Homo sapiens: one gene and its partners. The protein of the gene in region 1 purifies or fractionates together with the protein of each later gene. This does not show direct contact. Each region holds a gene or a part of one and is shown in the gene's direction. Other genes may lie near its edges.

Evidence for each region.
Region 2: the proteins of XXYLT1 (region 1) and GOLGB1 purify together in Homo sapiens (co-immunoprecipitation; one large-scale study listed by IntAct). This does not show direct contact.
Region 3: the proteins of XXYLT1 (region 1) and CLYBL purify together in Homo sapiens (affinity purification with mass spectrometry; one large-scale study listed by BioGRID and IntAct). This does not show direct contact.

What each region holds. Positions count from the first base shown.
Region 1 is NC_000003.12:195,066,313-195,071,147, reverse strand, and holds the end of XXYLT1 (xyloside xylosyltransferase 1), read left to right. Parts: intron 1-1,036; coding exon 1,037-1,433; 3' UTR 1,434-2,864; downstream 2,865-4,835. UniProt on the Homo sapiens protein: Alpha-1,3-xylosyltransferase, which elongates the O-linked xylose-glucose disaccharide attached to EGF-like repeats in the extracellular domain of target proteins by catalyzing the addition of the second xylose.
Region 2 is NC_000003.12:121,701,242-121,706,064, reverse strand, and holds part of GOLGB1 (golgin subfamily B member 1), read left to right. Parts: intron 1-3,469; coding exon 3,470-3,584; intron 3,585-4,823. UniProt on the Homo sapiens protein: May participate in forming intercisternal cross-bridges of the Golgi complex.
Region 3 is NC_000013.11:99,608,367-99,613,189, forward strand, and holds part of CLYBL (citramalyl-CoA lyase, mitochondrial isoform 1 precursor), read left to right. Parts: intron 1-4,823. UniProt on the Homo sapiens protein: Mitochondrial citramalyl-CoA lyase indirectly involved in the vitamin B12 metabolism. Converts citramalyl-CoA into acetyl-CoA and pyruvate in the C5-dicarboxylate catabolism pathway.

The sequences.
Region 1 (4,835 bases):
ATTGCTGTGGCCCCTCCTCTGTGGGTGTGGGCTTGGACGCCTCTCCCCTCCACCTGCACACCCCTTGCAGCACACATGAGGCTTAGCTATTAAAGAGGCTGGAGGACAGTGCAGCGCTTTAACCCTGGCCCTCACAGGGAGGTGTCTAGGTCTTTCTTCTCCCCTCCAGATGGAAGCATTTGGGTAGAGGACCTAGAAGAGGCTAACACTCCCTGAACTATGAACCTAGATTGGTTTCTAAATCTGCTGAGAGAAAAATTGAACTTGAAGTGACATTCCTTCTAAAGTAGACATCATCCTACATGGCTCTTCTACAGCTGTCTTTCACCCTAACCCATGGTGTGCCCTGGGCTGTCGCAGGCCCCCAGCCCCTGCCCAGCCTTTCTGAAGTGCCAGGCTTGGGGCTCAATGAATGAGCCTTGTTCTAAAGCAGAAAACAGTTCTGTTCCAGTCAGGGTTCAGCTGCCTGCGTCTTGATGAGATCTCTGTTCAGGATTGTGTCCCCTGCTTCTCTCTCCCTTCTCCTTTTCAAGATCACAGGTGAAGACAAGGGGGTGGAAAGTTCTACCTAGATTGCTGCTATCTTAAGAATGTGGACTTTGGAGCCAGATTGTCTGGGTTTAGTCCCTGCGTCTGCTGCTTACTAGGTGTGTGACTTTGGGCAAATACCTTGACCTCTCTGTGCGTCCGTTTTCTTGGCTGTGAAATGATGTATCATCTCAGAGCACCCATCCCCTGGGGTTGTGTGGGGAGTAAGTAAGCCGGTCTAGTATGGCGCCTGGTACATCCTCAGTCAATAATATCAATGTTGGCTGTGGTGAGGACGTAGCAGAGGATGGTAGAAAGAATCTGAGGCTTGGGGTCCAGAGCCCTGGGTTCAGGTCCCAGCTCTGCCACTTGCTGGTGTAGTGATGCGGATTCTGCACCCCGGAATGTGGCAGTGTTTGCATGCAGGCTGGCTGTGAAGACCCAGGGCAGCAGGCCGGCAGGCTGGTTCCCCTGCACACCGGACTAACTCTGTCCTCTCTCTCCACAGGCACACATTCTGGCAGTTCCGCCATGAGAACCCCCAGACCCGGGTTGGGGGCCCGCCCCCCGAGGGGCTGCCGGGCTTCAACAGCGGGGTGATGTTGCTGAACCTGGAGGCCATGCGCCAGTCCCCGCTCTACAGCCGCCTGCTGGAGCCGGCGCAGGTGCAGCAGCTGGCCGACAAGTACCACTTCCGCGGCCACCTCGGGGACCAGGACTTCTTCACCATGATCGGCATGGAGCACCCCAAGCTCTTCCATGTGCTGGACTGTACCTGGAACCGGCAGCTGTGCACCTGGTGGAGGGACCATGGCTACAGTGACGTCTTCGAGGCCTATTTCAGGTGTGAGGGCCACGTCAAGATCTACCACGGGAACTGCAACACTCCCATCCCGGAGGACTAGGCGCTCCCCGTGCCTTGCCCCCGGGGCCTCCAGATCTGGGGGAAGGACAGGGTTCCTTGGGACAGACCCAAGGGCAGTGTCTGACCCGCTAGAGAGACACCGCAGGGAAGTCCTGTGATTAAGGTGCTGAGACCTCCTGCCGGGCAGGTCACTGTGCTGAGGCCACCCGCCAAGGACTGGCCTGTGCACTGCTGGTGCTTGGGACCTTATTCCTCCAGGGAGCAGGCGACACAAAGGACACGCATGTCCAGTGGGCTGGGAAGCAAGCACTTGAAGAGAAGGAAGGGGAGAAAGGGTCCCCCTTGCTGTCTGCCTCTGAGGAATGGAAATCCTTTAGACCCGGCCTTTTTTGGACCAATATAAATTTAATTTAAATTGACAGCCTTCCATTTTTCGAGAAAGTACAAACAGAACTGCTTTAGCACCCATCGAGCCCCAAACGGGTAAGGTAAGCCAAGGTTTTAATGACCAGCCCAGTATCTAAGCTTCCAAACGAATGCCAGCCCATCACATACTCACCCTGGGAGGCTGCTGCACGCGCATTCTCCTGATGCTCACGTCACTTGGTGTAGGTTTCAGGATCGCCTCTTTGAGGAAGGACTTCAGGACCAACTGGGGCCTGCATAAGAAAACTTATCTCATTATTAGAGTACTCACAGCTTGTATCTCCCAGCTACATCCTAGAACCCCATTGTCCTTTATTCCACCAAACCAGCTCCAGGTGACCAGACTCTACTCAGAAAGCAAATTCGTCATCAAAGAACAGAGACTGGCCACCACAAGGACATGCAGGAGAACTGTCGGGACCAGGAAGACTCATTCCAAAAAGCCCAGGCCGGGCACAGTCGTCAAGCCTGTAATCCCAACACTTTGGGAGACCGAGGTGGGGGTATCGATTGAGCCTCGGAGGTCGAGATCAGCCTGGGAAACACAGGGAGGCCCCCATCGCTACAAAATATTTTAAAAATTAGCCAGGTGTGGTGGCTTGTGCTTGTTGTCCCGGCTACTTGGGAGGCTGAAGTGGGAGGGTGGCTTGAGTCCAGGAGTTCACTGCACTGAGCTGTGATCACACCACTGCACTCCAGCCTGGACGACAGAGTGAGACGTCCATCTCAAAAAAAAAAAAAAAACCAAAAAGGAACCCAGCAATTCCCAAGTGTGACCATGTGGGCTTGGAAGACATGTCACTCATGGGCTAGTAAGCATTCTAGTTTCTTTGTTTAAAAAATCCCCTTATCATACCACGTTAGACCGTAGACCTTAGCAGAAATTAAAGCGTCATTTCTTTTGATGGGGCCTCCTGTACGTAGGCTGCAGACGTGAAAGCCCCAGGGGTCCATTTGTATCAATTTTCATCTTGTTTTGTTTTGATTTCATTTACGTTTTTCTTTTTCCCATGAGTGAGGATAGCCAATAAATCATCTTTGAGAACATGGTGATTCATGTTGTTTGTTCTCTGATCACAGTTTCAGCTGCATGAAGGCTCTGAATCAAGTGTGTACTCAATGCCATTGGAATCCCCACCTCCCCTGATGAAGATGAGTGCTTACAGGAGATCCTAAGGACCAAGGAGAGGGCACATCTGAGAGGGTGTCAGAGAGGGTAGTATTGGCATGTTTGGTTCAAAGCAAGGAATCATTTCATTCTAGGTATTGGCAGGTCCACCTGCACTGGGGAGCAAAAGCATCCCCATTTCTTCTCATCCCTCTTACCCTAGACTGCCCAGTTACATCCTGCCCTGAAGAGGTGGAGCAGATATCTTTCCCAGCCCTCTGCTGTGACAGAATTGGTCTGTTCTCTCACCTACTTGATTTCCTATTTATAGGTAACAATTCTTGAATGCCTGCTGTGCACCAGCCATTGTATTGGGGGATTTATTACGCTATTGATAATGTTTATGAAAACTTCATGAAGGTCATTATGTCTAAAGTCGACTGTAAGAAAATGTGAGAGATGTGGACAGAGTCATATACTATATGTTTATCACATTTTTTATAGTAGAAGAAAATTGGAAGCAACTTAAAATGTGAAAAAGAGGGGCCAGGCGCGGTGGCTCACACATGTAATCCCAGCACTTTCAGAGGCTGAGGCCGGCAGATCTCTTGAGCCCAGGAGTTCAAGACCAGCCTGGGCAACATGGCAAGGCCCAGTGTCTACAACTATACAAAAATTAGCTGGGCATGGTGGTGCACGCCCAGCTATTCAGGAGGCTGAGCTGGGAGGATCACTCAAACCCAGGAGGCAGAGGCTGCAGTGAGCTGAGATCACGACACTACACTCCAGCCTGGGGGACCGGGCAAGACTCTGTCTGTCTTTAAAAAAAAAAAAAAAAAAAAAAAAAAAAGAATGGAATAGGTAGATGAATAATATGCTTCATCCATATAACAGAATACTTGAGGCATTATTCGAAGAATATGTAATGCCTCAGGAAATACTTAGAATGTGCTATTAAATAAAGAATGCAAAATGTAAGATCATATGTTTAATACGATCCTATTTTTAAAATTACATATATGTGTATGTATATCAGTGTACACACGTGTGTATAGATACATACCTACACACACACGTATGTATAAAAAGAGCATCTATTCTGCTGTATTTCAACTTCTAAAAACATAGGTGTTTCAAACACCACATTAAAAAAACAATTATTTCAACGGGAAAAAAGTGAGTTAAAGGCTAAAGAATTTTAGACTCACAATAATAAAGGTATTTTCCCTGCAATCCTTTCTATAATTAAAATGTGTCTATAGCTATGTGTGTATTTTGTTGTTGCAAGAAAAAAACAATAAGCTGGTTGGTCAAAATGGGCAAAGGCCAAACAACATCCCTCATTTACTTTTAAGTAAACCTCTCAGGAGCTTCCCCTCTGTCACCAGTGGCCTCGACCTTCCAACCCCCCAGTGCACAGCAGACTGTCACTGCACAGGCACCCCAGCCCACCCACAGATCACACCCCAGCCCGCTGACAGATCACACCCCAGCCCGCTGACAGGTCCCACCGCAGCCCACCAACAGATCCCACCCCGGCCCGCGGACAGATCACACCCCAGCCCGACAGATCACACTGCAGCCCACCAACAGATCACACCCTGGCCCATAGACAGATCACACCCCAGCCTGCTGACAGATCACCACATAGGCACCCCAGCCCGCCGACGGATCACCACACAGGCAGCCAGCCCACCGACAGATCACTCCACAGCCTGCCGACAGATCACACCCCGGCCCACCGACAGATGACTTCACAGGCACCCCAGCCCGCCCACAGATCACCGCACAGGCACCCCAGCCCGCCCACAGATCACACCCCAGCCCCCCGACAGATCACCGCACAGGCACCCCAGCCTGCCCACAGATCACACCCCAGCCCGCCGACAGATCACACCCCAGCCTGCG
Region 2 (4,823 bases), about 73 Mb from region 1:
CGGGGTTCAAGTGATTCTCCTTTGTTTCTATATTTGTTTTGTTAACATATTTTGGAGCTTTTTTTATGCGACTCAGTTAAATTCTTTGAAAAAAACTTGGTCCTTTCAGATCCTGCTGCTTTGATTTGTTAGGAGGGTTCGAATCAGTGCTCAGTCATTCGATACTCCTGAGGCAAGACCTTGCTGAGTATTCTACTCAATGCCCTGAGAAGTGTTTTTTCACATTTGGCTATATAACTGACACTTCCGGGTTTTGTGTGAGCACCAAGTGCTATTCTTTAATCTCTTCAGATAGGTAGGGGTAGTTCAGATAGCCTTGGATGCTTTCCTCACATTCATGTCCTGCCCTGTACTTCACTGAACACTTGTTCAGTCCCTTTGCAGATCTGCAGGGTTTTCTCTTTACGTGACTTTTTCCCATCTGGTATTCTATTCTGCGAACTGCAGCCATCTTGCTCTTTCTTGACTGTCAGCTCTGTCTCATGAACTTAGGGAGTCTACCAGGCTCAGCCTATGTTCCCCCTTCTTGGACCACAGCCTGAAAACTCTCTTAAGGCATGAAGCTTGGTCAGTTTTAGGGATCACTTTGTTTTCTGCCTCTCTCAGAGATAATTATCCTTTGTTGCTTGATATCCAGTATTCTGAAAATGATTATTTATTATTTTGTCTGGTTTTGGTTGTTATTGTTTCAGGTAGGAGGTTAAATCTGTTCCATGTTACTCAGTCTTTAGCAGAAGCAAAAGTCATCTATTGGGTATTGAGCTGTATCTTTTTACAAAAATTTTTTAAGTGGTTATTCTAGGAAGTATAACATATATCCATAATTTTTCAGTCTTCTTGAGTTAATACTGTACTACTTCACTTAAAAGGTAGAATCTTCATAATCATATACCCTCACCCTATTCCTGATGCCACAGTTGTTGTATGTATTATATTAACAAAAGTAATAAGCCTCAGCACACAATTTTAATATTTGTGCTTAAAATGGTTATATATATTTGAAAGACATTAAGAGGAAAATATTGACCTTAACATTTATCCACATATTTACCATTTGTAATGCCCTTTCCTCTCTGATGATCAGATATCTATTTGATACTGTTTTCTTCAGCCTCTACAACAACCTATAATATTATAGTATAGGTCTGTCTGTGAAAAAATTTTCTTAGTTTTTTTCTTATCTAAAAATGTCTTTATTTTACTTTTATTCTTGAATGATATTTGCTACTGGATATTATAATTCTCGATTGACAATTTTTCTTTCAGAACTTTTTTTTTTTTTTTTTTTGAGATGGAGTTTCACTCTTGTCACCCAGGCTGGAGTGCAATAGCACAGTCTTGGCTCACCGCAACCTGTGCCTCCTGGGTTCAAGCAATTCTCCTGCCTCAGCCTCCTGAGTAGCTGGGATTACAGGCGTGAGTCACCACGCCTGGCTAATTTTGTATTTTAGTAGAGACGGAGTTTCTCCATGTTGGTCAAGCTGGTCTTGAACTCCCAACCTCAGATGATCCACCTGCCTCGCCCTCCCAAACTGCTGGGATTATAGGCGTGAGCCACTGTGTCCAGCCTTTCTTTCAGTACTTTAAAGAAGGTGTTTCCCTCTTCTGGCCTATATTTTTTCCCTAACAATTGGTCAGTAGTCATTCGAATTATTGTTTCTCTGTATGTAAAGTATCATTTTTCCATGGAAATTTTAAGACTTTCCTTTTATCCTTGTCTATGAAGTACTTAGTTATAGTTTTCTTTGTCATTTTCTTGCTTGCTTTTGTTGAGTTTCTTACGTATATAACGTTATGTTTGAGAAATTTTTGGCCATTTCTTAAAATATTTTTTCTTCCCATTCTGTCCCTCGTCTCTTCTGGTACTCCAATTACACGTATATTGAACCTTTTAATATTGTCCCACATGTCCCTGAGGTTGTATTCATTTTTTTTTTCAATTTTTTTTATTCTTCTGTCTTCAGATTGGATAATTTCAGTTGATTTATCATCCTCAATTCACCAAGACTTTCTTCTGTCGTCTATATTCTACTGTCAAGCCTATCACATTGAAATTTTCATTTCAGATATTATGTTTATTAGTTCTGGAATTTCAAACTGGTTCATTATTTTTTTTTGTTTGTTTTACTAAGATTTCCTTTCTTCTCATTCATTATGAGCATATTCATTTATGTCCTAAGCATAGATATAATAGCTTCTTTATTAAAATTCTTGTTTGCTACTTACAAAATCTGCATCATTTTATGGCTAGAATCTGTTGATTATATTTTTTTTCCTTGAGAATGGGTCACTCTTTCCTATTTCTTTATGTGTGAATGGTTTTGTTTTGAATTCTGGATGTCGTGTTTTGTTCTCAAGATTTTATTTTGTTATTTCTAAAATTTCAATTACTTTTTATCAGACAGTAAGTTGGACTCAAACCCCAAACTCTGGCCTATGATAGAGAGGCATCAAAACTCAGTTCAGTTATTTTTGCCTTAGCTGGGCTGCTTTAAGTCAGTCCAACAAATACATTGTGCCATTGTTCAGTCAGAAATTTCAGCTAAGTTTATACACAGAATTCAGGGCTCCTCCTTCCTAACTCTTTTTCTTCTCTCTGATCTCCCTCCTCACATCCTGGCAGCTATGTTTGTCCCAAACTCTTCTCATTCTTCAAGCCAGAAATATCTGTGGCTATTCTATTGGAATTTTACTTGCCCTGCATACTGCAAACTGGGAACTTCCCTCAAGATAAAAGCCATAAAAACCCTAAATTCATCCCATGCTATTTATTTTAAACATTGAATGAAGATTTCGGGGTCAAATATGCTGTAAAGACCCTCATGGCTTAAAAATTCTACAATTGTATGAAAATTTTATAGAATAATATCCATGGAGAATAAAAAATATATACAAAGACATAAAACTAAAGATGTGACATAATTAGATATATGCCTATCCTTAGGAAAACCAAAAATTCTGGATGTATAAATTAAGCCAAGGGAATTTTTATTATACTTGGAAAACAAAAAACAATTTTATAAATCTTCTTCCTTTCTTAAGAGGTACATATTCCTTTGCCTCTATTCCTCTTTGTGGAACCTCTCTTCATGTTCATTCTCCTTCAGGAGAGAGACCATGTTACTTGGTGACATTAATCTAATCTTGTAATACTATTTGTTTGTGAACCTGAAAATGTTCTTTCTTATGCTATAGACTTGGGATTTCTATCTTTGTAATCCAGGCTTCAATCTTAAATTTAAAAGCCAATGAACTTGATATTTGTGTGAAATATTTTATTTCTTTTTCTAAATCTTTAGATAAAACACTTTTCTTCAAAGATTACCTAGGCAGATAAGTAGATGTTATTTTTAAAGTATTTTCATGGCTGGAGAACTTCTAGAAGACAAAAATGCTGGAGGCTATCTGGGCGTTAGTGTGAGAATTTTCTGCTGGAGAATCATTAATTTGTTGTCTTTCTACAATTTAGGCAGTCACTGAGGAGAATATTGCTTCTTTGCAGAAGAGAGTGGTAGAACTAGAGAATGAAAAGGGAGCCTTGCTCCTTAGTTCTATAGAGCTGGAGGAGCTGAAAGCTGAGAATGGTATGTATAAAAGAAAACCATAATTCTCTGTCTTCTTATCCCACAAGTGCCTCTACTTTTATCACTAATTATGTATAACATGTAGAATTCTCTGATTCCGTGATAATAAAGATTTAGATAATAGAGCTGGTAACTATCAAAGATAATACACATTAAACAATTAGAGCATAGTATCAGTGTTTACATAAGTATAACATTTTGCAATATGGACTATACATGCTGCAGGATTTCTTTATAACTCATAATCATTTTGGAATGGTCATCGTATCCTATAGGAAGTATGGCTTGAACAGGACCTTAATAAGATGATTTTTAAAATAGGTAAAATGAAGAAAGAAAGGACATTCTGGTAATAAATTTGTGGGATGAGGTAACAGAGATCAGTATAAAGGTTTAAAGGTAGAAACTATGTTGTGAGTGAGTGGTTTATGCTCGTGCTGTACCCTGCTTAGAATCCTGCTCCTTTCCTTTAGTCTGGATGATTGTTACTCATCTTTCAGGCCTCGACTAGCATATTATCTTTTTCAGGAATTTGGTATTGGTCCCCAAAAGTTGGGTTAAATGATTTTTTTGTGCTTCCATAACATCCTTGTATACTTTTAACATTGTATTAAAATGATCTGTTTATATGTTTGTCTTTTTTACTATATTATAAGCTCTTCAAAGTTTAAATATAAGCTCTTCAAGGGCAGGGGCCATTTTTTTTTCCATCTTTGCTTTACCCAAAACTAGTATACCACCTGGCAAATAATGGCTACTGAATAAAGTTTTGTTGGATTGAACTGAACTTAGCATTTTATCCTATTGGATTGTGTGTGAACAGTTAGTGAGAATGAAGACGTGTCTCCTTCCACTTATCATATGCTTCATGTAGACTTTATGGATTTAGTAGCGTGTCGTTAATGCTTTATTGATCTAATTCATCTTTAACTGACTACTACACTTTATCATCTAGGAGTGAGAATGAATAGCAAGTAAAGGTTGTAAAACTTTTATTAAACTCTAGAGCCAGTATTTCTAACTTAACCATTTTACAGTTTTCCACTTAGATCTAAATGGAAGCTTATGCACTTGTATTAGACGATTCCCACTATTTCTAATAAGTAAAGAACACCACAAATTCAGCTCATTATTTAACCCATTCAGAGCACTTCTTTGAGACCTTATCCATGATGCTTATTTTGCAGTTTTGCAAACAGTCTGTATCCTATCCATGTGGCTTCACATGGTTTGGAGGTA
Region 3 (4,823 bases), on another chromosome or scaffold:
CCGGCCTGGGTCTGAACTTCTTACGTCTTCTTGCACTGTGACTCTTCAGTCACCCATGTCCTATGGGAGGACCCACCTAGTCTTATGCATCCCACTTTCCCATTTCCTCCGCTGCCCCTGGCACAGGGGAGTCACCCCTCGCCCTAGAGGAGCAGCTCAGGCAGTGTATCCAGGCTGGTCCAGAAGGGTCCTTTTCTGGCGCCTTTTGAGGGGGCCAGCGTCTGTGACCTGTTCAGTAGCGGGTCCAGTGAGCGCACACAGTCCCCACGCCAGTACGCTGGGGGTTAACTCAGTGCTCCTCACCCGCCTTAGCACACTGGTCTGTTCTCGACATGTCTACCCGCTGAATATAGGATTCTTGATTGGCATTTTTTTTCCTTTGAGCATTTTAAAGCGTATTATCGCACTGTCTTTTTGCCTCCATTATTCTAATGAGAATTCAGACGTTAATGTTATTAGGGTTCTATGTAAGTGATGAGTCTTTTTTTTTTTTTTTTTTTTTTTTTTTTTGCTTGATTTTCTCTTTGTCTTGGTCTTTCGGTGGTTTTATTATGATGTGTGTAGATCTGTTTGAGTTTATCCTCTTGGAAGTTTATTGAGTTTCTTGGATGTGTATACATCAAATTTGGGAAGTTTTTGGCTATTGTTCTCTCAAAAAAGTCTACTCTCTTATCTCTCTCTTCTCTTTCGGAGGCTCCCATTGCGTATATGTTGGTGTAGTTGATGGAACCCCACAGGTCTTTGAGACTGTTCCATTTTCTTTCTGTTCCTCAGGCTGGACAATGTCAATTGACCTGTCTTTGTTTTTTTTTTTTTTTTTTTTTTTTTTGAGACAGAGTCTTGCTCTGTCACCAGGCTGGAGTTCAGTGGCGCAATTTCTGCCCACTGCAACCTCTGACTCCCGGGTTCAAGCGATTCTCCTGCTCCAGCTTCCCGAGTAGTTGGGATTACAGGCACGCGCCACCACGTCCAGCTAATTTTTGTATTTTTAGTAGAGACGGGGTTTCACCATGTTGGCCAGGATGGTCTCGATCTTCTGACCTCGTGATCCACCTGCCTTGGCCTCCCAAAGTGCTGGGATTACAGGTGTGAGCCACCGTGCCCAGCCGACCTGTTTTTAGGTTTGCTGATTGCTCCGTCTTCCAACTCAAATCATTTTCATTTTAATCCAGAACTTCTTTCTTTTTGGAGAATGAGTCTCACTCTGTCACCCAGGCTGGAGTGCAGTGGTGCAATCTGGGCTCACTACAACCTCTGCCTCCTGGGCTCAAGCTGTCCTCCCACCTCAGCCTCCCAAATAGCTGGGACTACAGGTGTGCACCACTGCACCTGGCTAATTGTTTCTATTCTTTTGTAGAAATCAGGTTTCGCCATGTTGCTCAGGCTGGTCTCGAACTTGGCTCAAGCAATCTGCCTGCCTCTGTCGCTCATAGTATTGGGATTACAGGCATGAGCCATCATGCCCGGCCCTTTTCTATACTTTCTATCTCTTCATTGATATTCTCTATGTACTGAAACATCGTTCTCATACTTTCCTTTAGTTCTTTTTTTCTTTCTTTCTCTTAGAGACGGAGTCTCCAGGCTGGAGTGCAGTGGTGAGATCGTAGCTCACTGCAGCCTGCAGCTCCTGGGCTCAAGTGATCCTCCTGCCTCAGCCTCCCCAGTAGCTGGGACTACAGGCACACACCACTATGCCCAGCTAATTTTTAAATTTTTTGAAGAGACAGAGTCTTGCAGTGTTGCCAAGGGTGGTCTTGAACTGCTGGGTTCAAATGATTTTCTTGCCTTGGCCTCCAAAGCAGTGGAATTCTAGGCATGAACGACTGCACCTGGACTCCTTCAGTTCTTTATGCATAGTTTCCTTTCGTTTTTTGAACATACTTTAAATAGATGATTTAATTAGTAAGTCCAACATCTGGACTTCCTCAGGGACAGTTTGTACTGACTACTTTTTTCCTGTGTGTATAGGTCATACTTTCTTTTCGTTGCATGTCTTGTATATTTTTTTGAAAACTGGACATTTTAAGTAATATAATGGGGCAACTCTGGAAATCAGATTTCTCCCTTTTGCCAGGGTTTATTGTTGTTGTTGTTTGCTTAGTGACTTTAATAAACTAATTCTGCATTGTATTCTTTGTCATGTGCAACCAGCGAGGTCTCTGCTTGGTTAGCTTAGTAGTCTAACAATTAGACAAAGGTTTCCTTAAATTCCTGGAACCAGTAAGTCTCCTAGTCTTTGCTGAGGGACTCTGTGTGTGTCAGGACATGTCTTCAACATTCAGCCACAGTTTGTCCTGCTTCCACAGAGACTGAAGGTTAGCTAGACATGAGCACTTAAGGTCTTTCCTTAGCCGGTATACAGCCCTGCACATGTGCGTGGCCTCCTAGAGTCTCAGGAACATGTCACAACTTTTCAGAGCTCTCTATGGGTATCTTGTTCTCCATTTTTGCCTTTTAAGTGTTTTGGTTAGCCTGTTGTTTACCCTGTTATCTTCCATCTCAAGTAGCTGTGATGGTAAATAAGTACTTCTGATTGTTTGGACAAATGCCCTCCGGGAAAATACTGTTCCCACTGTGCAAGCTCTGAGTCAGGTCAATTAAAGACAGTTTTACAAGTAGGGTCTTCCAAGGAACCACAAGACAGGTCAAATAGTGACATTTTCCAGAAATGGGGCTTTCCCCCTCTAGTGGCTGCCATGCTGCTGGTTTTCACTGTGATGGGGGCTATTGATTTTCAAGTCTACCACAGAGCTGGGGAAGAGGGATAGGGTAAACTAAACCCCCACGACAATTGCTGTTCTTACTGAGATTCATACATTTTTCTTGAATAAATGATCCCTATATTGCTGCAAGTCTTTAATTTCTAGAATTCTGAAAAAGTTTATTCTGACAATTTTTGCCAATATTCTTGTTGATTTTATGGAGGATAGGATTTTCAAAGGTCCTTTTTCTGTAGTTTTTGCTGAAGTCAGCCTGCATAGAGTTTTGATCGAGTGGATTTGAATTTATAAATTTTTTTTTGCATCTGTTGTGTTGATCATAAGGCTTTTCTTCTTCAGTGTGTTAATACGGTAAATTACAGTGATTGACTTTTTAAAAGTTAAGCTGACCATTGCATTCCTGGAATAAACCCCACTGATTGTGATGTATTGTTTGGATTGCATGTGCTAAAATTTTGTTAAAATTATTTGTATCTGTGTTCATAAGGAATAATCGCCTATAGTTTTCTGATATTGCCTTGGTCTGGGTTTGGTATTAGGATGGTGATGGTCACATAGGATGTGTTGGAGAGTTCCCGCTTCTATTTCATGAAACAATTTGTGTAAATTTGGTAAGATTTTGCCTGTAAATGTTTGCACCTGCAGTTTTCTTTGTGGAAAAAGTGTTAAACTACAAATTTAGTTTCTTTAATAGACATATTGCCATTCAGATTATCTAGTTCTTCTTGAGTAAGCTTTGGTAGTTTGTATCTTTGAAGGACTATGTCCATTTCATCTAAGTTGTCACATTCACGTGCCTGGAGTTGTTCATGCTGACTCCTTATCCTTTTTCTTACAGCTCTACAAAGGTATATACCACACAATTCACCCTTTGTAAGTGTGTGATTAAATAATTTCTAGTAAGTTTATAGGCCCATCACTACAGTCCAATGTTAGGCCCCCCTCCAAATTTCTATCATCCCGCAAATTCTCTTGAGCCCATTTGCAGTTAATCCTTACCCCTGCCTCTAGTCTGTCATCTCCTTACTGTTTGTGTCATCCATAGTGATGTGTCCTTCTTCATCCTTGATATTTGTAATTCTTTTTTCTCTGTTTTTTATTTTATCACCTGGCTTGAGTTATTTTGCTCTTTTTAAAGAACCATCTTTTTGTTTTATCGATTTTTCTCTTTTTTTTGTTTTCTATTTCATTGATTTCTGTCTCATCTTTATTATTTCCTACCTTCACCTTACTTTGGGTTTAATTTACCCTTTACCTTTTTAAGGTGGAAATTTAGATAATTAATTTTAGACCTTTCTACTTTTTTTTTTTTTTTTTTTGAGACAAGGTCTTGCTCTGTCACCCAGGCTGGAGTGCACTGATGCAATCTTGGCTCACTGCAACCTCCACATTCTAAGCTCAAACAGTCCTCCTGCCTCAGCCTCCCAAGTAGCTGAGACTACAGGCATTAGCCACCATGTCTGGCTAATTTTTGTATTTTTTGGAGAGACGGGGTTTCGCCATGTTGCCCAGGCTTGTCTCAAACTCCTGGATTCAAGCAGTCTACCCACCTTGGCCTCCGAAAGTGCTGGGATTATGGATGTGAGCCGCCACACCCATCCGGGGTCTACTTTCTAAATATAAGCACTCAGTAATTACTTTACAGCCATGCTTGGTGGCTCATGTCTATAATCCCAGCACTTTGAAAGGCTGAGGTGGGAGGATCACTTGTGGCCAGGAGTTCAAGTCCAGATTGGGTAACATAGTGAGATGCTGTCACTACAAAAAAAATTTTAAAAGTTAGCTGGATGTGGTGGCTCATGCCTGTGATCCTAGCCACTTGGGATGCTGAGGTGGGAGGATTCCTTGAGCCTGGGGATTTGGGGTTTCAGTGAGCTGTGATGATACCACTGCACTCCAGCCTGGGTGACAGAGCAAAGCTCTATTAAAAATAGTGATGATAATAATAATAATAATAATAATAATAATAATAATAATAACAAAATTCCCTCTAAGGATTGTTTTAATTCCCTCTAGCAAATTTTGCAAGATTTCTGATACCTGTAATCTCTTTTCATTTCTTATGTTGATACTCTGTTTCTGTTTTCTAAAGTATTCATAGTA